3 separate regions of the Homo sapiens genome follow, and regions 1 and 3 are each linked to region 2. The links come from fine-mapping of genetic effects on gene expression. A gene starts in region 2. Each other region holds a variant in brackets. All regions are shown on one strand. Distances are between the middles of the regions. Region 1 overlaps DNMT3B (DNA methyltransferase 3 beta). Region 2 holds the start of EFCAB8 (EF-hand calcium binding domain 8). Region 3 overlaps MAPRE1 (microtubule associated protein RP/EB family member 1).

Region 1 (8,230 bases), 78 kb after region 2:
CCAAGATGGTGAAACCCCATCTCTACTAAGAATACAAAAATTAGGCCAGGCGTGTAATCCCAACACTTTGGGAGGCCGACGCGGGTGGATCACCTGAGGTCAGGAGTTCAAGACCAGCCTGGCCAATATGGCGAAACCCTGTCTCTACTAAAAATACAAAAATTAGCAGGGCATGGTGGCATGTGCCTGTAATTCCAGCTACTCATACTCAGGAGGCTGAGGCAGGAGTACCGCTTAAACCTGGGAGGTGGAGGTTACAGCGAGCCGAGATCGCGCCACCGCACTCTAGCTTGGGGAACAAGAGTAAGACTCCATCTCAAAAAAAAAAAAAAATACAAATACAAATACAAAAGTTAGCTGGGCATGGTGGTGCACGCCTGTAAGCCCAGCTACTTGGGAGGCTGAGGCAGGAAAATTACTTGAACCTGGGAGGCGGAGGTTGCAGTGAGCCGAGATCGTGCCATTGCACTCCAGCCTGGGCGACAGACTGGAGACTCTGTCTCAAAACAAAACAAACAAACAAAAAGAAACGTGTGGGCAAGAGATTTCATTACTGTTTCTGGTAACTAGCTACCAGAAACAAAACAGCAGTGCTGAGCCTCTGATCCTGCAGCTGCCCTAATTCCTCCCAGGGCTTAGGTTCCCCACCTTCTGAGTCCCCTAAGTAGGTTGGCCACCACCAAGAGAATGGAAGCTGAGGGTGAGTTTTCATTGCCCAGGACTTTTATGACTGATACTGGCTCTGAGCAAAACCAACCCAATTGACAAACTCTACTAAGAATAATTAGGAAACAGACGGTGTCAGTAAAGGAAGGAACACAAAACAAGATGGGAAAGATCCAACCTTGGAAAAGTAAATGAAGTAGAAAGCTTGATAATGTAGCAAGTCTTAGAAGATATAATTGTTTGAAATTCATTAAAATAAGCTTAGACAAGTTTCTTCCAGCTTGTAAAAAAAATTCCTTGAGCCCACCTAATCCTAACATCAAAACCATAGATATATTTAAAGAAATAAAATGGGCCAGGTATGGTGGCTCACACTTGTAATCCCAGCACTTTGGGAGGCCGGGACAGGTGGCTCACTTGAGGCCAGGAGTTCGAGACCAGCCTGGCCAACATGGTGAAACCCCATCTCTACTAAAAATACAAAAAAATTGGCTGGGTATGGTGGTCCATTGCCTGTAGTCCCAGCTACTCGGGAGCCTGAGGCAGGGGAATCGCTTGGGCCTGGGAGGCAGTAAGTTGCAGTGAGCAGAGATCATGCCATTGCACTCCAGCCTGGGCAACAGACTTCATCTCAAAAATAAATGAATAAAAAAAAATACCCATTTCATTCATGAATACATGAATAAAATCAACTTCAAAATGCACCATAACCAAGTTGGACTCATTCCAGGAATAAAAAGACAGTTTGCTATACAGTAGTCTCCCCTTATCCAGGGGGGATACATGCAAGACCCCCCATGGCTGCCTGACACCTTGGAAGATGGAACCCTATATGTGCTCTGTTTTTGTCTATATCTACATACCTATGATAAAGTTTAATTTATAAATTAGGCACAGATTAACAACTAATAATAAAATAGAGCAATTACAATATACTGTTAATAAAAGCCATATGAATGTGGTTTCTCTCTCAAAATATCTTCTTGTACTCTATTCAGGGTTAATCTGTCCTTCCATGGTTTATGACCTAGTGTCTTCCTCCTTTGCACTTTTATGAAGGTAGGTTCTATTAGACATCATCTTCTGGAGGAGTCTGGTTTCACTGCAGTCTTAGTTTTGGATTGTTTCCTTTCTCAATCAACTTCAACTCTTCTGAAAATGTAGCAGCAGGTTTTTCATTGGCAAATGCAGCCTCTCCAGTCATTTTTATAGTTTTCAGTAGAAACCTATTCTTGAATCTATGTAACCATCCCTTACTTGAAGTAAATGGTTTGGTGTCAGGGGATCCCTTGCTATAGGCTCAATGCTCCCTGGCACAAAGCACTGCTGTCAATCAGAACATATTTCTGTTCATGTCTTCCACCTACAAATTTAATGCCTTTCCCATCTTAACTACACACTTATCACACAACATGGCCATAACTTTTGCAGTTTGAGGTGCAACAGTAAAACTAGCATGCATTTATTTTTCCTTCTTCATGATTTCACGGCTGGAAGATTTGTTCTTACCACAGATCTAACAACTTCAGCATATGATTTCTTCTTTCCTTTTTGAGAACTTTCACTTTTTCACTTAAAGGAAACACTTCATGGCTTCTCTTTGGCATAACTGAATTGCCAGCGTCATCACTCCTGCACTTTGGAGCCGTTATTAAGTAAAACAAGCACTACTTGAACACAACCACTGTGATACTGCAACTGATCTGATCACGGAGACGGCTACAAGTGACTAACAGGCAGGTAGCACCTAAGCATAGAGATGTTGGACAAAGACAGGACTGATCCTGGGCAGGACGGAGCAGGACAGTGCAAGATTCCATCATGCTACCAGAATGGCACTCAATTTAAAATGTATAAATTGTTTATTTCTGGGATTTACCATTTAATATTTTCCATTTAATACTTTCAGACGGCAGTTGACTGCAAGCAACTGAAATCGTGGAAAGCAAAATGACAGATAAGAGGGGACTACCATATTAGAGATTTAGCAATGTAACTGATCGTCCAGATTGAAAAAATAATGCCAAATATATGCAGAAAGCATCTAGCTCGGCAACCCTCCATACATTTGCAGATGCCAGTTTTTATGGGCCTCAGGCAGCCCACGTGATGAAAGCCAAAGACAAAGTCCCTGAGCCCTGAAAAAGGGAGAGCAGAGACCATACCTGTGTGTAGCTTAGCAGACTGGACACCTCCCTCTTGGAGAGTCGCGAGCTTGATCTTCGGCCTGTAGAGGAAACAGCCAGGAGTCTGTTTTGTGGGGGCAGGCACCAGTCTGGGGAACGGCCTTGCTAATAGGGGCTTTTCTCCGTGGCGTGGCCTGGGATCTCCCCTACACTATTGTCAGCCACAGGGATTTGCTCTCAGTCCGTCAGTATCGTTCATCTTCTCCACTGATTTTATTCCTAAGACAACAGAGCCCTGGGCCAGGCACGTGACAGGACCCAAACCAACACTGAAGTTACCAAGGGGAGCCCTCCGATTCCTTCCAGCAGGGTGCTGCCCATCCAGGGACCACTAACTACATTTCCAGGAACAATTCACTGCCTGCTGTGTCAGCCGCTTCTCAAGTGCTCCCATGTAGAGTGTGGCTATTGTGGGGAACAATGCAGAAATAGAACCCTTTCACGCTCGCAGGAAGTTCCATGGGATGGCACAGCTGAGAGGACAATGCAGGGCTTTCCAACCCAGCTGGGGCGGGATCCCAAGTGAGCTGGCTGGAGCTGCTCAGGGCAGGGTGGAAAGGAAGCACACTCCAGACCTCCCCCTCCCAACCCCAGCCCAGCTCTGAGTGGGGAGAGGGTCCCACTGCAGAAGGGCTCTCCAAGGGCCCATGCTGAGACCACCCCTGTCATGACTGGCAGAGGACAGGGAACCATCACCCTTGTGTCACGCTCAGAGTCCCAGCTGAGATGAGAGTCCCAAAGGGGAGGCCAAGGGCTGCGGGCAGGTGTGAAGGGCTCGACCCTGCATCCCTCCTTGCTAGAGCTCTCTTCCCTCCCGGGGAATTGTGGTGGAGGTTGTCAGAGACTCTCCCCAAAGCCTCCAGTTGTCTGCAGTGACCGCTCACTATGTCAGCGCCTGACACCACCCCAGTCCCCACTGCCCAGCCACCTCTGATCTCCGGGGTGCGGATAGCCTCCAGGATTGGGGGCGAGTCGGAGGACTGGTCGCTGCAGGCCCCGTTGACGAGGATCGAGTCTTCCCTCCCGCCGGCGTCCTCCTCTCCATTGAGATGCCTGGTGTCTCCCTTCATGCTTTCCTGTGGGAGAAGCCAGAATGGGTGGGGTGAAAGGGAAGCAGGGACATGAGAGGGACAGTGTTCCCCCGCCATGGGCTCTGTGTTCTCAGGCCAAGGCCCCAGGATGCATTCTTAGGGTGATGCTCTTGCCCAAGTACCCCACCCAGGCTGCCCCCCATAGCCTCCCCCTCACCAAGCTTGGAGGCTCAGGACTTGGTTCCATGTGGACAGGCTGTCCCGAAGGCTCAGACGCCAGCACCCAGGACAGAGTGGGGAGGCCAGGGCTGGGGTCTCAGGCTCAGACTGCTCTGTGCAATTAGCCGGCCCCTTCAAACAATGCCATTTAGGACCTGCCTGTCCCGGCCCGTCTGCCGCCAGCCTCTGTCCCCTCTGGCCCTGGCCCCCTCTCCCTGCTCAGCCTCTGCAGGGGCTCAGGAAGCCAGTGCATTATTTTCCCTCCTGACCCCTTTGTTTGCTCTCTCCCTTCCCCTCAATCTCCAGGTCCTCTTCCCACCCACCCCCTCCTCCCCCACAGAACCGCTTCTCTCCTCTCCATGGCAGCACAAGCCCCGCCTCACCCCATCCTCCAGGGCCCATTGGTCTGCTGGCCTGTCGCTCACTCCCCTCCTCCCTCACCAGCTGGGGCTCAGAGTCCCAAGTTCCCAAGGAGGGAAGGATGGAGGCACAGGCAGAAAGCCTGGGGGCAGTTACCAGGAGGGGGACTCCCCAGATCCATTGTAGCCTCACCCTCACCTCTGGGACTTGGCCTCCCCACTGCTGCCCCTCCTGGTCAGGTAAATCAGCTAACACACAGGGCCAGGGCCATACGGATGGGTTGGCAGGCTATAACCTCTGGGCTGGCCCATTGCCTGCAACATTATGGGCACACAGATTTTGTTGGATGCAACAA[C/A]CTGTATCTCCCCCTAGGGAGACTGGGGAGCTCACCTTCTAGAAAAAGAAAACTGACATCCAGACTAGGTTATTCTCCAAGGTCATATAGCCCATCTAAGAGGTAGGGCCAGGATTAGATAGAGAACGAGTAAAAAACTTCAGGGCATAAATCCCCGCTGAAACCGAGTTTTCCAAGTCACTTGCCTTTGCTTTTTGTTCCACCTTTGGTTGGCAAAAATATTATAAAAGCCTAGGCATAATGAGACCTCCAGGCCCCCATCCCTGAACCACAAACAGCTCCAGGTCACTCACACCACACCCTTGTGTCCTGGAACCGTGCCTGGGAAAAGCTTCCCCAATAAGCTGCTGCCATATGCACCGGGCCTCCCTGCCTCGGGCTCCATCGTGGAGACATACCAGCCCCTGCCAGACAACCCGTGCTAGCCTCGCAGTTTATCTTCTATCTGTCCATCCATCCATCCATCCATCCATCCATCCATCCATCTATCTTAGAGACAGGGTCTCACTTGGTCACCCAGGCTGGAGTGCAGTGGCGTGATCACGGCTCCCTGTAGGCTTCAACTCCCAGGGCTTCAGTGATCCTCCAGCTGGGCCCACAGGTGTGTGCCACCAGGTGTGGCTAATTTTTTGTAGAAACAGAGTCTGGCTATGTTGCCCAGGCTGGCCTCAAACTCCTGGCCTCAAGGGATCCTCCCACCTCAGCATCTCAAACCAGGGTACCTTCTAGAAGCCACACCTTGTATTGCGGGCTCCAAGCTGCACTGGCGCCACTGGCATCGCCCACCAGGGGGCACCGTGAGCTCAGTCTGATGAGCCCAGTGGCGCCCCCAGGCAGAGGTGCAATCTGTGGTGAGAGCTCCCAATTCCAGACCCTGCACCTGCCCATGGCATGGGGCAACTGGACCTCTGCTGCTACTCCCTGTGTGGCCCAGGAGCCACGCAGGCTACAGTACCATGAACTGAGAGCTGCTTGGAAGAACTGTTGGAAGTGGGAGCTGGCTGGAGAAATCTCCACCACTAAGCTAGATGTCCTGAAGCAGGGTTTTCATTTTTTTTTTTTTTGAGACAGAGTCTCCCTCTGTCGCCAGGCTGCAGTGCAGTGGTGCGACCTCCGCCAGGCTGGAATGCAATGGCACGATCTCAGCTCACCGCAACCTCTGCCTCCCAGGTTCAAGCGATTCTCCTGCCTCAGCCTCCTGAGTAGCTGGGATTACAGGCATGCGCCACCACGCCCAGCTGATTTTTGTATTTTTAGTAGAGACAGGTTTCACCATGTTGGCCAGGATGGTCTCGATGTCTTGTCCTCGTGATCTGCCCACCTCAGCCTACCAAAGTGCTGGGATTACAGGCGTGAGCCACCACACCCGGCCTGAAGCGGGATTTTCACAAGACATTTTAACACACACAAGTCATGCCTAGGTGATTAATATGCATGTTAAAGCAGCATTGTTCAGATTATAAACATGTGCGCTGATACATAACACATAGGCTTTCTGTGCTTCACATGATCCAGAGTGTGTATCAGCACCTGTTAAGGAATTTCCCCTACCAAGGACAAGGGACGTGCCTGAATCAGACCAATCAGCTGCTTCTCAGCCCTTTTTCTCCCAAGCCCTGACCCGGAAGAACAGGCTGGCTGACCTATGGCCAGTTCCTATGAGACAAAGCAGTCAGAATCCCAGGAAAGCTGCTGCGGTGTCGGTTCAGAATAATCATTAATTTCAAGCGTTTCACCTCAGGCCAAATCAGTGAACTAAGTAACCTAGTGGGCCTGGCATAGAGTGGGAGGTGGGGCTACCTGGTGTACCTGGTGTCTCCAGGAGGGTCCACCTCCCCAAAGTGCTCTGGGGGGAGGACACACAGGGTTTGTTTGTGGCCAGGAGCTGGTAGCAGACCAGAGGCCTGGAGTGAAGGATGTGACCTCCTTCGCCTTCATCCAGGGCCTGGGGTTCTAATGTGTGCTGGGTTTCGCAGGCAACATTGAACCCCATTCCTCAGACAGGCCCTAACTGGGTCAACAAGAAGCCAGACAGGAGTCTCACCTCCTAGACAGACCCAGGCTGACAATGATTAACCACCCTGGGCCTTCCCCCAGGGCCTCAGCAGTGCCAACTGGCCACCAGCCTACCCAACGTGTGGGCAGCACACCTTCCAAAACCCATATCTCAACATTCAGGAAAAGCCTCAAGCCCCTAGAACAAGACCTGTGGGTACTGGAGAGACAGTCCAGGAAGAAAACCCACAATAAATGGCACTAGCTACCTGGGTGTCCCCCAGGAGCAAGCTGAGCACTTATATATGCTTTCTTCTCGTTGCATAATTCAATGTGATTTCATTTAAAATTCCTTCTGTTTTTATCACGACCCTACGTTTGTAGTGAAATTAACTACCCTCATTGCCTTATAGCCACAGCTGTGTAGACAGCGCACACCAACTTCAGAACCTGCACCCATGACTAAAGATGCCCAGCTCAGTTCCTCCCCCACCCCGCTTCAGTCTACACGCAGGCCAAGACAATCTAGCCTCGAGGCATGTGCTGCTGTGTTCTCTCAGCCTGGAAGCCCTCCCCAACTCCCTACACCTCCTGCTTCCTTTCTCAGACCTCAAAACCCACAGCTCAAAATCCAGGAATAAAAGCTTCTCTCCTAGGCCTTTCTTCCCACATATATAAATATATAAAAATCCCCCCAATAAGGTCATCTTTTTTTCAGTGTTACTATGTGTCAGGCACTGTTTTGGCTTTACTTATCTTAACTCATTTAACCTTTAAATGTGGTAAGTACTGTTATTCCTGTTTTGCAGATGGAGAAACCAAGACAGAGACTGACATACTACCTCCTTGATCAATATATAGGGAAAGTAAATAACATACAAATTTAACTACATGTTCTTAGAATCAGGACAAGAGAAATTAAATTAGCATCAGGTGTGTACCAGTGGATACAAATCTCCCCCACCTCTTTTCTATGTATCTCACTGACTTCATGATTCAAGGCTGGCATTTCCAGATAACATGGCCCCCATCACAAGCCAACTGCTTTATCTAATATGACCTATCCAGAGTGGCAGACATGCTGGATTTAGAACTGCATCATCCCACACTGCCACTGTAACATTAAGTAGCTAACAGTTCCCAGGGCCCTACTTACTGTAGGCTGAACACTGTCTACCACCATGGATTTTTTTTTTTTTTTCTTTTTTTAAGATCAAGTCTCTGTCACCTGGGCTGGAGTGCAGTGGCGCGATCTCGGCTCACTGCAACCTCCACCTCCCGGGTTCAAGCGATTCTCCTGCCTCAGCCTCCCGAGTAGCTGGGATTACAGACTTGCACCACCATGCCTGGCTAATTTTTGTATTTTTAGAAGAGACGTGGTTTCACCATGTTGGCCAGGCTGGTCTCAAACTCCTGAC
Region 2 (8,268 bases):
AATGCTCTAATCTAGCAGTGTCTTGGCAACAGCTCACACCTAAGGACCAAAGGAGAGAGGACAGCCTAAGGGAAGGAGATTTGGAAGCCAAGAAGCAAGCTAACAGAAATGCCAGAACCACTTTCAGAAAAAGGAGCAAAGAGGGAAAGTGGTTTTAATGCATGTGATACTAGGCTGTCCAATTAGGAATAAAAAATAGGCCGAGGCGGGAGGATCGCTTGCATCCAGGAGTTTGAGACCAGCCTGGGCAACATTGAGACCCCACATCTACAAAAAATCCAAAATTAGCCAGGTGTGGTGGCACATGCCTATACACCCAGCTACTCAGGAGGCTGAGGTGGGAGAATTACTTGAGCCCAGGAGGTTGAGGCTGCAGAGAGCTGAGATCATACCACTACACTCCAGCCTGGATGACAGAGTGAGACCCTGTCTCAAAAAAAAAAAAAAGAAAAGAAATAATAAAAACAAGTATCTGGAAATCTGGGGACTGAAACTTGAGGAGTGGCTACATTTAGAGGACAGAAAGAGGGAGAAACACACAAGACAGCTAGGAGAATGGGACGCTACAAAGTGACCTAAGGTGATAAGGGAAAGAAACAGCCACTGAAAAAGGCAATTAAGAGGTTACCAGTGAAAAAACTAAAGTGTATGTAAAATGTTAAGTTCATTTCTGTTAAGAATATATGCATGTGCATATTGGCACATGCATAAAAAAGAGCCTGGAAACATATACTCCAAAATTAATAGCAGTCATCTCTGGTAGGTGAGATTATGGAAGATGTTTATAGCCTAAATCATGCAATTCTCTGATTTTTATTTTAATTAAAAAAGGGTTCATGGCGATCTTTTGAGATGGGGTCTTGCAATGTTGCCCAGGCTGGTTTTGCACTCCTGGGCTCAGGTGATCCTCCCATCTCAGCCTCCCAAGTAGCTGGGACAACAGGCACATGCCACCACACCAGGCTCATGGCAATCTTTAACATGTGTTTCAACGGCTAGGCGCGGTGGCTCACATCTGTACTTCTAGCACTTTGGGAGGCCGAGGCAGACGGATCACCTGATGTCAGGAGTTCAAGACCAGCCTGGCCAGCATGGAGAAATCCCATCTCCACTAAAAATACAAACGTTAGCTGGGTGTGGTGGTGGATGCCTGTAATCCCAGCTACTCAGGAGGCTGAGGCAGGAGAACTGCTTGAATCCAGGAGGCGGAGGTTGCGGTGAGCCGAGATTGTGCCATTGCACTCCAGCCTGGGCAACAAGAACGCAACTCCGTCTCAAAAAAATAAAATAAAATGTGTTTCAGTGGAGTGGGTAGGATGGTGGGTAGTAATTTAAATGACTCCTTTGTGAAAGGCCACTGTTGAAGAGTGATTGCTGCAGCATCATTCATAGGAGCAAAAACCAAAAGTGAACCATTATAGACACAGAAATGAACAAATCAGTGCATCTGCACCTAGGACGTCACCCAAACATCAGAAGGATGAATCTGACTTCCAGCAGCTAAGAGAGATTTCCATGAAGTACTAATAAGAAAAGCACGATGCAGGCCAGGCACAGTGGCTCATACCTGTAATGCCAACACTTGAGGCCAAGGTGGGAAGATCGCTTGAGCCCAGGAATTTGAGACCAGCCTGGGCAACATGGTGAAACCCCATCTGTACAAAACATACAAAAAATTATCTGGGTATGGTGACACTCCCCTGTAGTCCCAGCTACTCAAGAGGGTGAGATGGGAGGATTACCTGCATCCAGAAGTTTGAGGCCGTAGTGAACTGTAATCACAACACTGCACTCCAGGGCCTGGGTGAGAGAATGAGACCTTGTCTCAAAAAAATAAATAAATAAAAAAACCAAGATGCAGAAAAGGGTGCACACTATGATGCCAATTTTTATAAAAGAATGAAAAAATAGCCTGGGCACAATGGCTGACGTCTGTAATCCCAGCTACTCGGGAGACTGAGGCACGAGAATCGCTTGAACCCAGGAGGTGGAGGTTGCAGTGAACTAAGACTGTGCCATTGCACTCCAGCCTAGGCAAAAGAGTAAGACTCCATCTCAAAAAAAAAAAAAAAAAAAAAAAAAAAAAAAGTTACCACCATCAGCGATGGAACAAAATGACATCCATCACACACCTCCTGATCCGATACATGCAGGGCACAATGCTTCAGTAGTATTATTGCCAAAAAAATACATGATCTGAATCTAATCATAAGGAAACAGACAAACCCACATTACAGGATATTCTACAAAATAACTGGGTTTTTTTTTGCTTTTATTTTTGAGAGTCTCACTCTGTCACAGGCTGGAATGCAGTGGCTCAATCTCAGCTCACCGCAACCTCCACCTCCCAGATTCTGATGATTCTCATGCCTCAGCCTCCTCAGTAGCTGGGATTATAGGTGCACGCCACCATGCCCAGCTAACTTTCGTATTTTTAGTAGAAACAGGATTTCTCCATGTTGGCCAGGCTGGTCTCAAACTCCTTGGCCTCAAGTGCTTTCCGCCCGCCTTGGCTTCCCAAAGTGCTGGGATTACAGGCGTGAGTCACCGCGCCTGGCCAAAATAAAATGCCATGTAAACCAAAGAAAGGCTAAGGAACTGTTAGAGATGAAAGGTGACTCAAGAGACCCAACAACTAAAGGCAATGCACGATTCTGAATTGAATCCGATTGGGAAAAAACAAAAATGCTGCAAGGGCTGTTATTTGGTGAAATTATGTAAAATTTGAACATGGACTCTATATTATTAGATAGCATATTAATGTTTTCTGCTTTTGATAACTGTATTGTGGTTATGAGAATGTCCTTGTTTCAGGAAATGTACACTGAAAAGTATTTAGGGGTAAAAGGGCATGATGTCTGTAATTCTCAAATGGTTTAACAAGTAACATGTATAATAACACAAATGTGGCAAAATGTTCACAATTAGTCTATCTGGACAAAGGGAAGTTCTTTGTAGTAGTCTTACAACTATTTATATATTTTTAATTATTTCAAAACTAAATATTTTGTAAGATAAATGTCTTTCACCAGGAGAAAGTGGTTCTATGTATGTTCATGAACAGAGGTAAAACGCCAAATGGGAAAAAAAGTGCTGGTTGCTGCCAACAGAGACCACCCAAAAGAAAAGGGCAAAAGCAAGAGGGGAGAGGCCAAGACAAGTACCATTCCTCCAACTCTGAAGGGAAGGAAGGGAAGGCTGAGATGTAAAACTCGGTTGATATTTAGAATTGGAGAACAGGTCAGATCAGAAGTCACATCCATCTGCCTCAATCTATTCCCTAAAGTTGACCTGTCCGGAGCTGACGGAAGAGGGGCAGGGCAAGGCAGGTGGGAGAGTACCATCCAGAACAGGGGTGAGAATTCAGAGCAGCCACTAGGGGAACATGCTAGGGATGAGAGGGGAACGAGTGGTTTGTACGAATTTGTAGAGGCAGATGACTTAAGGATACATGCATTGAAAGCCAGCCAGGACACAGATAAGAGCTGCTCTCCAGCCTTGGAGGTCAGGCAGAGGTCTTCAGCAGAGGTATCCAATCTTTTGGAGAGCAACTTTCACCTAAAACCCTCACTCACCCTGACTCAATTTGATCTCCTCAGTTAATCTTGCTGGCAAAGTCTGGCAAAGTGCTAACACTTTCCAACTCCCATCTCAACAAAGACATTGGCAGCTGTTCCCAGTCCAAGACAGCTCCTTTATGAAGTCGAGATGGAACTCTGGGTCTGCTGGTCATATTTAGAACTAGGGAAATGAGACAGAATTCCGTATGAAGAACATAAATGAAGCATCAGAACCCGTCCCACAAACCATAATCACAGAACCATTTTTCATCCAATTTGAAACATTTCTTTTATTGAAGAAGTTGAACTTACAGCAGACAGTGAAAGGAGTTACAGCACTCCAGGACAAACACAGACATAAAATAATACATAAAACAAGTAGCGGGAAACTGGAAGATGCCAGGGAGTCCTCTTATAAAAGCAGGGTTCACCAAAACCAGAAGGCCAACTGGCTCCAGGACAGCGAAAGGCACAGTGGCTCCTCTGCTCCTCTGCCTTCTGCCCCATTTGAAATGGGGGACTTACAAATCCAGACTTCAGGGCAGGCCTAGACTTGATGCAGCCACTGCAATCTTGGTCCATGGTGCAATTTGGCAGACAAGTTGGTGAAAGGTAAGTTGTCTCCAGAGATTTCAATCAGGGACGTGGCTTCCAGATGTTAAAAGATACCCAGCTAAGTCACAAGGAAGTGGATGTTTTCAAATGCTAAGTGACCACCAAACAAAACATTCTCCCTGGGCCTTCACCACTCAGAGAACACCAACATACAAAAACAAAAGTCTGTTCCCATTTCATCAATAATGGAGTTTTAAGGATTTTGTCATAGTGTAGAATATTAAGAATGGATGAATAAAAAGTCAAAAAAGGTGCAGAGGTCCTATAAATCAGGGTTTATTAGACTAGATATTAATAAATTGGAAGGGTTTAAAAAAAAAAAGGCTGTTGGCCCTACATATGACAGTTTCCCATTGTTTCTTAGCTTAGTATATTTATTTTCCAACACAATGTTAGCAATTCTTACAGCAGTTCTTGCATTTTTCCAATAACATTTTTATTAATCAAATGGTATATATTTTTCACTATAACCTATTTTCACTGATTAATACATTTATCAGTATTTTAATGTGGCCTAAAATATGCTAAATTCTGTCACAATAAATATGTTTTTCCCTCCCTGGGGAGAAACACAAGTAAAAAAAGGAAAATATTAAGATGCATTCCACTTTTTAGTTAAGGAAAAGTTCAGAAAACTCCCATCTTTTTAAAAAAGAATGAAAATATGATCCTAAGTAACTCAGGTTAGAAAAACAGTAACAGAGCCAGGCGCAATGGCTCACGCCTATAATCCCAGCACTTTGGGAAGCTGAGGCAGGAGGATCACTTGAGCCCAGGAGTCTGAGATCAGCCCAGGCAACATAGTGAGACCATGTCTCTATTAAAAAAAAAAAAAAATTAAAGAGAGAAAAAAACAGTAATAATAAAACAAGTGGGGAGGAGGACATTTAGAAGAAAAATCTAGATAAACCTCTGCACAAAAATAATTTTGGAAAAAAGTTAGAAGTCCTACCTGAGATTAATTCAGGCGTCACTGGCTAATGCTAAGGGAATTCTGATTGGAAGGCAGCAACTCAGGGGCCCAAGGACCACATTAACAGATGCAATTACCTGCCCTAGAGAAGGCGCTTCCTCACACTCCCACTTAGCTGCAATGCCAATACTGTCCTTTCAAGCTTCAACCCTGTGATTTTAAGATATCAAAACTTGTATCCTTCTTCAGCTCTATGTAATTTGTCAAAAATTTCAAGATGCAACTCTATAGCCAAAAAGAGAGCCTTTTACTTTTTCAAACAAAAATAAACAAGAGAAGTCACTGACTGCTAAAACTAGAAGGGACCCTCAAGATTGGTATCACAGGATCACACCTTCATCTGGCAGTAGGTTGAGGTCAGTAACTCAGCTCACATGACATTTAAAACCACACAACACTACCAGAGAGAGCTACAGGTTCAGATGCCAATGGTTTCAAAAAACCATGATTCAGGCCGGGTGCAGTGGTTCACGCCTGTAAACCCAGCACTTTGGGAGGCCGAGGCAGGTGGATCACAAGGTCAGGAGTTTGAGACCAGCCTGGCCAACATGGTGAAATCCTGTTTCTACTAAAAACACAAAAATTAGCCAGGCACGGTGGTGCGTGCCTGTAATCTCAGCTACTCGGGAGGCTGAGGCAGGACAATCGCTTGAATCTGGGAGGCGGAGGTTGCAATTAGCCAAGATCGCACCACAGCACTCCAGCCCGGGCGACAACAGCAACACTCCGTCTTGAAAAAAAAAAAAACAAAAAAACCACGATTCAAGAAAAAGGCAGATTCTCCTGTGTTCAGCAGCTACTTTAAAAAAAAAAAAAAAAAAAAAGGCACTTCTTGGCCAGGAGTGGTGGAGGACTGCTTGAGCCCAGGAGTTTGAGACCAGCCTGGGGAACATAGCCAGACCCTGTCTCTACAAAAATAAAATTAGCTGAGCAGTTCCAGCTCCTTGGGAGGCTGAGGTGGGAGAATCACTTGAGCCCGGGAAGTCAAGGCTGCAGTGAGCCGTGACCATGCCACTGCACTCCAGCCTGGGTGACAGAGCGAGACCCTGCCTGGAAAAAAAACAACAACAACAACAAAAAAGCACTTCCTAATGATTGGGGAAAATATTAAATATTAGGTCAGAGAGTTAAACACTCTTAGAAATTTTTAAGAATACATTTATTTCACTCAACACTGAATCTTAAAATTATTACTTCTTCAGACCAGGCACGGTGGCTCAGGCCTGTAATCCCAGCACTTTGGGAGGCGGAGGAGGGCGGATCACTTGAGCTTAGGAGTTGCAGACCAACCTGCACAGCATAGTCAAACCCCATCCCTACCAAAAAAAAAAAAAAAAAAGAAAATTATTACTTCCTCTCTCAGGCTTCAAAATTAAGGAGGAGGGAGGGACAAATTGGGATATCCCATAGCTGCCTGCAAAAAACACAATAGCTTATTCCATTCTCCCAAGCAGGATTTAAAATTTCAAAGTGAAAACAGCAGTCATATGTAATTATACATGCTTAACTCTCTCACATTTTGTAGAAAAACATACAAAATACAAAAAAAAAAAAAAAGACTGTATCAAGTTAGAAAACTTAAATAGAACACCAAAATCCAGATGACCTTGAAGTTTTGCTGGATCTTAAAATCACTAGAACTACTTCAAAATATATAAATAGGCCCCATTATGAAAAATATAAATATGAACATGATAAATAAGCAAGAGAGGAAAGGAAACTGGTCACTCAGATAAACCATGACAGGTCCTGGGTAAAATACATTTAGACGATTCGGGGATGGAGGTACTAGAATTAGCAAGGCCCTCCCTGCAGCTTGCAACCTGTGGGGAAAAAGCCAAACAGGTGGTAGGCCACGTGTATTATTGCTCCTGCCAAAGCCTCCTCTTTCAGAATCAAAAACCACAAGTAGTTGAGACACTGTGCTTTTCTATCAAAATCGCCCTTCACTGGTGAAAATTAGCCTCCACTGGCAATGTTCGCTGGGAACTGTACACTCTCCCACTCTTTCTTGTTCCGGTATCCTACTGACTTTTACAGACCTCGGTAACTTTTTCTGAACCAGGACTCAACTCCTCACTGAGCCAATGAAAAGCCATGCTCTGCAGACTTCAGATGCAGGGCCTAGCAGAGGACTCTGGTCTTAACTCCTGGTCCGTGGCATTCCACTTACAGCACCGTCTTCCTCATTTATTTCAGTAAAGGTCAGAGGTGGGTGCCAGCCACACACCCATTTCATATGTTCAGTTTTACCCACTTGTGTGCTTGACCTTGGACTTAACTTCAATACTCTGCATTGCAATTTGTGAATCATCCATTAAGGCTAAATCTTAAAAACTAATCTTTGTCTCCACTGGAGACACAGTAACTAGTAACTAAACCACAAATCCAGCTTTTTAAGATTTACCCTGACAGATTGACTCTCACCCAACAAAAGCTTCCGACATCCCACTCTACTGCTAAAACAGAAAGTAAATGAAAGGCTCAGTAGATGGAATAAATTACTCTTCCTCCTCTGCCTCATACCTACACCCAGCCGCACCAACAATCTCCTCCGACTACAAAAAAACACTCAAAGTAAACCAGGAAAAAACTAAGGTAGAAATTTTTAAAAAGCAAATAAGGCAAGACAAATAGAATTCCAAACTGCATATATATATATAAGATATATATGATCATATATATATATATTATATATATGATCATATATATCTTATATATATTATATATGATCATATATATATATAAAATCTTTTAAATAGAGACAGGGTCTCTTGCTATGTTGCCCAGGCTAGTTTCAAACTCCTGGGCTCAAGCAATCCTTCTGCACTGGCCTCCCAAAGTGCTGGGATTACAGGCATGAGCCATGACACCCAGCCCCAAACTGCTGATAGGTTATTTTACAATTATAAATTTATATCTTGATGCCACTTACAAAGTTCTAGGCATTGGTGGGTAACCTGGTTTGCTTTCAAATGGTCACAGGACAAAGAACTGCCTCCTCACACTCAGAAACGTGTCTATGAAGGCTATTTCCATTTCACATTTCAGAACCTGAGAGCCTCCAATACAAGGAAACGAGAGTTATTTACAATTTTGATACACACACGCACCTCAAGA
Region 3 (8,000 bases), 24 kb after region 2:
TGGCTCACTGCAACCTCCACCTCCTGGGTTCAAGCGATTCTCCTGCCTCAGCCTCCTGAGTAGCTGGGATTACAGGCATGCACCACCATGCCCAGATAATTTTTGTATTTCAGTAGAGATGGGTTTTCACCATGTTGGCCAGACTGGTCTCAAACTCCTGACCTCAAGTGATCTGCCTGCCTCAGCCTCCCAAAGCGCTGGGATTTACAGGCATGAGCCACTGCGCCCAGCACAGGGTTTCTTTTCAGAGTGATGAAAATGTTCTAAAATTGATTGTGGTGATAGTTACACAATTCTTTGGATATATTAAAAACCGTTTAACTTTATACTTTAAATATAAAAATATAATTATATGGCATGCGAATTGTCTCTCCATTAAGCTATTTAGAAAGCACTCAACCTACCCTCTCTATCAGATGAACAAGCCTCTCTCTAGGTATTATGAAACCTTAACTAATATTCTTGCCATCCTCTGGAAAAGAAGAAATTAGCATCTGTAGAGTATCTACCCTGCCCCAAAATATACACATTCTATACTAATGTAAACACATCTTGGGAAAGCTACCAAGCCCATACCCTTTTGAGAAGGTATGTAAAATCAGCCTCTCCCCTACCCCCGCCCCTGACTCTGCTAGCACCATGGCAAGCCAAAGTCACCTAGCAGCTAAAGTTCTAGGGCAGGTAGGGAAGCTGTGAGTATACACAGGAAGCTGGTCTACAGAGAGAATAACACAGACAGCCAAGAGCAGTCCCTGAGAGACCTACACACTTCCTTCAAGGAGTTCAGCTCTGGTATAACTTCCCATCCTAGGGCTCTGTAAAAATGCCCTTGTTTTGGAACAAACTAATGCTCTCTTACATGAGCTAGCCTGATGGATTTCTAGAGCTTTGGCAAAACTGCATACAGTAACTTGTTCAAGTTTCAAAAACCCTCTGGGGCAAGTATTAAAATTCCCATTTTATAGAGGAGGAAACTGTGGGGCAGAGTTGAAGTTGCTTACACAGGGCTACAGACACCTAAGGACACACACCGTTATCTGCCTGATGCCAAAATCCATACTCTGGCCACATGCCTGGGATTATATTTCTTAAGATCCCTAAGCCTATGGCTACTGAAAAAAATTCTAGTTGAACGCTGAATGAATATCTGGAACGCTATTTTTTGGAAACGTTTTGGGGTTGTTTTTTTACCTGCACTGCTAGAAGTGAGAGGTTTCTTCGGTTTATTCAGAGCTGGAGCAACAAGGGAAGGAGCCACTGCAGTTTCTTGACCTTGTCTGGCAGCCACAGGGTCATAGTCTTTTCCATCATAGTTTGCATCGAAAAACTTCTTGAACCACTGAACGAATTCAAAATTGTCCTGAAACTTTCCTTTTACTAATTTGTCCACAGGAATTATCTGCAGAGAAAAACAACTGTTTAGCCCCAAAAAAGAGGCTTTTGGCAAGCATCAAACTAGTCCATGCATCAATTCATTATAAAGCTCTGCCAAAAGGAGAAAAAAATATTTTAGAGACCTTAGGGCTAAGCCCCTAAATTTATAAAGCAAGTTTCATGCAGTTTGCCTTCAAGAGTACCTACACTTCCCAACCCCTCCCCACTCTCTCAAATGTATGAAAAGGAATCAGAAACAAAAAAGGAACAAGTACCATATAAGTCACATACACACATCCATCCAAGCACATCGTAAGACGTGATACAAAAGTGCATTATGCTATAAAGAGTAGGTCCGCTATATAACTTGCATGGCCACAATGCCTATCACAAAGCATGAAATCCACTGCACAGGCCAGGCACAGTGGCTCATGCCTGTAAACCCAGCACTTTGGGAGGCCAAGGCGGGCAAGAGTTTGAGACCAGCCTGGGCAACATGGTGACACCTAGGCTCTACCAAAAATACAAAAAAATTAGGCAGGTGTGGTGGCATGCGCCTATGGTCCCAGCTCCTTGGGAGGCTGAGATTGGACTGCTTGAGCCCAGGAGACAGAGGTTGCAGTGAGTCGAGACTGTGCCACTGCACTCCAGCCTGGGTGACAGAGAGAGACCCCATTTAAGAAAAGGGAAGAAAAATCCATTGCACAAACCAACCAAAGGCATCTACAATGAACTGTGTTCAAGAAAATTCTGGGCCGGGCGTGGTGGCTCACACCTGTAATCCCAACACTTTGGGAGGTCAAGGCAGGTAGATCACTTGAGGTCAGGAGTTCGAGACCAGCCTGGCCAATATGGTGAAACCCTGTCTCTACTAAAAATACAAAAATTAGCCGGGTGTGGTGGCGGGCGTCTGTAATCCCAGCTACTCAGGAGGCTGAGGCACGAGAATCACTTGAACCCGGGAGGTGGAGGTTGCAGTGAGCTGAGATTGCACCACTGCACTCCAGCCTGGGCAACAGAGTGAGACTCTGTCTCAAAAAAAAAGAAAGAAAAGAAAAGAAAAGAAAAAAGAATAATTCTAACCTGAAAATAGATCAAGATGCAGAATCAGTCTCAGGATAAATTTTTACAAAATGACATGTTTTCCAAGTAATTCCAAATCCTATTAAAACATGCTTGCTGGGGGCAGGGCTGCCCACCTGCAATCCTAGCTATCTTGAGGACTGCTTGAGTCCAGGAATTTAGACCAGCACTGGCAACACAGCAAGACCTCATCTCAAAAAAAAAAAAAAAACACCAATAAAAACACACACACAAAAAATAACAAATATACATAAGGACCCTGTAAGTATTTCTATTATACAAGAATACTGTGTTTTCAAGTATTCAAATCACTGAAGTGTTGGCCACAACTTAACTTTTTAATCTTTTTTAGAGATGGGGTCTTGCTCTGTTGCCCAGGCTGGAGTCTTATGCTGCAATCATAGCTCACTGCTGCCTCAAACTCCTGAGTTCAAATGATGCTCCTGCCTCAACCTCCAGAGTAGCTAGGACTACAGGCATGAGCCACCATGCCTGGCTTTTAACTATCTTTTAATCTCCAAAGATTCCAGTTGCAATGTATTATAAAAAGAATATATCCAATAATATATCCACCCCTCTGACAAATATAATTTTTAAAAGTTACTTTGCTTGATACTGAAACATTCACAAATATTACCTCTGTACTCACTTCAATAACCCAGAATACATAGGATAGGATAGAATTAGATATAAAACAAAATTGGCCATGCTAACCATTGAGTTACATGAGGGATCATTACACTATTTACTATTTATTGTTTATACACTATTATTACTTTTATATACTTTAGACATTTTCCATATTCAAAAAATAAAATTCCATAATAATGAATGCAAAATTACTGTATATGAACTCTATTTAAACTATGCCTGGAAAGTTAAGTGATATTCTTATACTATAAATGCCTATTTTATATATTGTAGAGACAAAACTAAAATTAAAAAAAAACCCTGATTTCAAAATAAATAAAAACCAGACACCAGCAAGATAATTGGGGGTGTTACTACCTTTGCCATAAAAAAAAAAAGTTATCCCCCCAAAAATGGCTTAAAAGGATAAACCCTTCACAAGGGTGGGGGAAGGGATAAACTACTTAATCTATTATCTACTAAAACAGAGGTAATATTTGTGCTAAACATTAAATGTTTGTGCTAAACCATGCCTGGTGGACCATGTTTCTGTTACCTTCAAAAACCTTTGGGGGCAGAAAGGAGTTTTCCAGCACCCACCACGGAGCCTCCTTGTAACCTTCTATAAAAAGCAAGTATTTCTAGAATCTTCTCCACCTCAGCCTCCAAAGTGCTGGGATTACGGGTGTGAGCCACCACGCCTGGCCTAGAATCTTCTCTACTGGAACTATTCTACATACAGTATGCTTTTACAGAAGTAAATCCAGATTAAGAGAGTTAGATTCCAGACTACTAGAGATTACACAGGAATTTTTTAAAAATAAAAATCACTGTACAAATTTACAGGCTGACTCCTCTAAACAGTTACTAACTTCACAGACGATGAAGAAAGAAACAAGCAAGGGGAATAGGGGCAAGAAGGTAGGGGCAAACTGCTCCCAGTAAATTCTGTGTTAACTGAGAAAAGTTAACTAGATAAATTAAGAAAAAAAAGAAAATGTCCAAAGTCATAAGCTAGCATCTACCTCCTTAGTAACGATCATTAAGGAACATTAACCACAATAAAAGATAACGTTTACTTACTTTGTCAACACCCATTCTCTTAAAACCTGCTTGTAGTATTTTGAAGTTCTGGATGTACTCGTGTTCTAGCTTAGCTTGGAATTTCACTTTCTTCAAGGCAATGGAGCCAGGGAACAGCATGTCCATAAACTGACAATACGCAGCCCCTGAAAGAACAACGGCAACAGAAAAATACAATTAAAGAAGCAGGGTGAACTTCTTCCCAGACCCACTTAAACCAAATACAATTTTTAAAATTGTGAAGTAGACCTACAAAAACCAAAAGCTTCACTAACTTCATGTGAAGTCAATTTCTAAAACCTGTAACAAGACTGTGGTTTTCACCCCATATATTCTACAACATACTTGCAACCCAGAAGCCTATAACAAGGAGAAAAGGAGTGTTTCTACAAAATTTTAAAACTCCTGTTCTTTATTGGTAATCATCATGACAATAAAATGACCACTAGAAACAAAAATGAATGCCTAAAATACAGAAAAGAAAATAACAAAAGTGACATTTTCTGATTTTTCACAAAGATATACCCTCCTCTTCAGGAGGCAATTTCCAAGATCCATCCTTGATCTAGATTAAAAAACATTTTTTTCCCTAAGACGTCTGTCTCCCTGGGCTTTTTACATCTCTAAATACATTTAACCTATCATTTCTTTTCTTTTCTTTTCGAAACAGGGTCTCACTGTC[G/A]CCCAGGCTGGAGTGCAGTGGCACAATCTCAGCTCACTGCAACTTCTGCCTCCCAGGCTCAAGTGATCCTCCCACCTCAGCCTCTGGAGTAGCGGGACTATAGGCACGTGCCACCAACGCCCAACTAGTTTTTTATTCTTTTTGTAGAGCACCCAGCCAACCCGTCATTTAATTAACAAAGTTGAATAGAAGACATTTTTGTGTTCCTCTATTAATTTTTTATTTATTTATTTTTTTTGAGACAGAGTCTCGCTCTGTTGCCAAGCTGGAGTGCAGTGGCGTGATCTCGGCTCACCGCAACCTCTACTTCCTGAGTTCAAGCGATTCTCTCAGGCCACTGCACTGTCTCAAAAAAAAAAAAAAAAAAAAAAAAGCGAAACTCTGGCTCAAAAATAAATAAATAAAGACTACTATGATAAGGCCAGGCACCGTAGCTCACGCCTGTAATCTCAACACTTAGGGAAGCAGGTGGATCACTTGAGTCCAGCAGTTCGAGAACAGCCTGGGCAACATGGTGAAACCCTGTCTCTACAAAAAATACCAAAATTAGCTTGGCGTGTTGGCATGCCCTTGTGGTTCCAGTTACTCAGGAGGCTGAAGAAGGAGGATCACTTGAGCCCAAGAGGTCAAGGACTGCAGTGAGCCATGATCACATCACTGCACTCCAGCCTGGGGGACAGAGAGAGACCTCGTCTCAAAAAAAAAAAAAAAAAAGAGACTACTGTAATAAATTATTGCAATATTTCATCCCATTTCATTCCTTCCCCCACTTGCCCATTTTTTTTTTCCAAAAAGTGTTTTATTACTGCTTAAACTTTCCAGGAAGATTATTTCTCTAATGCCGACAAACTGAACTCTCCTAATTCACAGCAGGCTTCACTGTGTACTTTACTGCCCTTCCAGGGCTAATTTGCCAAAGGAACAAGCTTGGGAAGCTAAACCAGTGGTTAAGTAATAAGTAATCTGCAGAATTCAAGACTGCCATAAAATGCATATTCAACTTACTTGAGGTCAGGCCGAACCAGTTCTCTGCTGGTTCCAGCATGTTCGGTTACCGTTATTTTTGGAAAGTCAACATAAACGAGAGCAGGGGCACTTCAGTGACCAGGGTGACATTCTTAATTAAGAAAGGATCTTCAGAAGGTTAAGGCCTTGATTTCTGAGGTGACTGATTTATTTACTCATCCAACAAAAGTACACTGAGGGCATTCTTTTGTTTTTTTTTTTTTTTTTGAAACGGACGAACTTTTTTTAAAAACCCAAATAGAAGACAATCTATTCAGCAACTATATCCACAGTGGTATTTTACCCAGTACTATTTTACACAATTAAAAAAAAGAAAAATTGGCCAAGCGCGGTGGCTCACACCTGTAATCCCAACACTTTGGAAGGCCAAGGCGGGCAGATCACCTGAAGTCAGGAGATCGAGACCAGCCTGACCAACATGATGAAATCCCGTCTCTATTAAAAATACAAAAAAATTGGCCAGGCGTGGTGGCGTATGCCTGTAGTCCCAGCTGCTTGGGAACCCGAGGCAGGAGAATCGCTTTAACCCGAGAGGCGATGGTTGCAGTGAGCTGAGATCGCACCATTCATTGCACTCCAGCCTGGGAGACAGAGCAAGACTCCGTCTCAAAAAAAAAACAACAAAAAAGAGACAATGACTTATGAATGAAACTGGTTACCAAAATTGCACAGGAGTTAAAAAAAAAAAAAGTCAACAACTTATGCATGAAACTGGTTACCAAAATTGTACAGGAATAAAAAAAAAAGAAAGAAACATTCTTATTTATTTCCCTATTTCTAAAAAGAGAAAGAATCAATTACATAAATATTGGCATCCAGTCCTCCTGATAGACTTTTATGCGAGTATGATTCTCTTCATGTTTCTTTTTCTTTTTTAGAGACAAGGTTTTGTCATGTTGCCCAGGCTGATCTCAAATTCCTGGGCTCAGGTGATCCTCTCACTTCGGCCTCCCAAAGTGCTGGATTACAGGCATGAACTACCACACCTGGCCTTTAATTTTTTTTAATGAAGACCTAACTATTCATAATCAGAAGAAAATGAGCTTCCTATCTTCTGTTTTGGTTTGCTTTATGTAAAGCAAGGGAAAAATCAAGGAGGTGCTTGAAGACTTAGGCAAAAATGTTTGAAGAGGCTGGGCGCGGTGGCTCACACCTGTAATCCCAGCACTTTGGGAGGCCGACGCAGGCGGATCACGAGGTCAGGAGATCGAGACCATCCTGGCAAACACGGTGAAACCCCGTCTCTACTAAAAATACAAAAAAATTAGCCGGGTGTGGTGGCGGGCGCCTGTAGTCCCAGCTACTTGGGAGGCTGAGGCAGAGAATGGTGAGAACCTGGGAGGTGGAGCTTGCAGTGAGCGGAGATCTCCAGCCTGGGCAACAGAGCGAGACTCCGCCTCAAAAAAAAAAAAAAAGTTTGAAGAGATACTTCCTTGATCAGAAATGTGACTTGATAAAACCAGTCCCTCAGAAAGGCTGCAGACTTATGCAATATAACAAAAGGGAAGGTGGGGGCTGGGAACTTAGAGGGAACTTAGTGTTCAGTCAGGAGGCCACTGCAGCAGCAGTGAGCAATCTGAGAAGGGGCTGGATCTAGAAGCTCTTTCAGAAGACAAATAAAACTGTGAATTAGCCTCAAAAGATGCTTCTCAGGCCTGGGACACTGGAAGAAAGATGGAATCATGGCCCCAAATGGAGTACCTGGAAAAGGGAGCTAGCCTGAGGAGAAAACAAAGCTGAGATTTTAAGTAATGACAGGTAGGGCAAAAGTATCCCATAAACAGAAATATCAGACCAGATCTGAGCTGGGAGAGGCCTGGTTACAGGTGTGATAACACACTCCCAGAGCAGGAGGACCATGTCATTAGCAGTGCAGCAGAAGCAAGATCGCCAAGCTGTCTTACATGAACTCAAGGGCTGTCGGGGCCCCACATTAAGCTGAGGAGAAAGGAATCTACCATTTGCCTGGGAACATCAACACCTTTGCTGCGAAGGAACCCATAAAGGAAGCCAGGCTGGAGGGAGAAGACAAGGAGGAGAAGGGGAGAGCCGAATACATTCAGTGAGACCCCTCTACATGTGCAGAGGACCAAGCTGTGCTCTTGAGAAAATGCAGAGGGGC

What was found.
Region 1: its variant is fine-mapped to the expression of EFCAB8 in whole blood (TOPMed, PIP 0.95).
Region 3: its variant is fine-mapped to the expression of EFCAB8 in whole blood (TOPMed, PIP above 0.99).

What each region holds. Positions count from the first base shown.
Region 1 is chr20:32,776,016-32,784,245 of GRCh38, reverse strand. It overlaps DNMT3B (DNA methyltransferase 3 beta), which reads right to left. Exons shown (of 23, transcript NM_006892.4): 2 at 3,781-3,928; 3 at 2,832-2,893. The coding sequence starts at 3,922. Among named protein-coding and RNA genes, the nearest start is that of DNMT3B, 18 kb to the right of the region's middle. RefSeq lists enhancers at 2,179-3,179, 3,180-3,680, 3,681-4,182, 4,183-4,683, 4,684-5,184 and 3 more. The variant C/A (reference allele first, on the strand shown) is at 4,818.
Region 2 is chr20:32,854,314-32,862,581 of GRCh38, reverse strand. EFCAB8 (EF-hand calcium binding domain 8) reads right to left here and starts at 3,659. Exons shown (of 27, transcript NM_001143967.2): 1 at 3,576-3,659. It overlaps LOC119746555 (a long non-coding RNA gene), which reads right to left and starts at 5,950. Exons shown (of 1, transcript NR_171378.1): 1 at 3,831-5,950. RefSeq lists an enhancer at 2,980-3,792.
Region 3 is chr20:32,830,033-32,838,032 of GRCh38, reverse strand. MAPRE1 (microtubule associated protein RP/EB family member 1) reads right to left here. Exons shown (of 7, transcript NM_012325.3): 3 at 4,171-4,316; 4 at 1,192-1,399. Among named protein-coding and RNA genes, the nearest start is that of MAPRE1, 14 kb to the right of the region's middle. RefSeq lists an enhancer at 4,953-5,453. The variant G/A (reference allele first, on the strand shown) is at 4,853.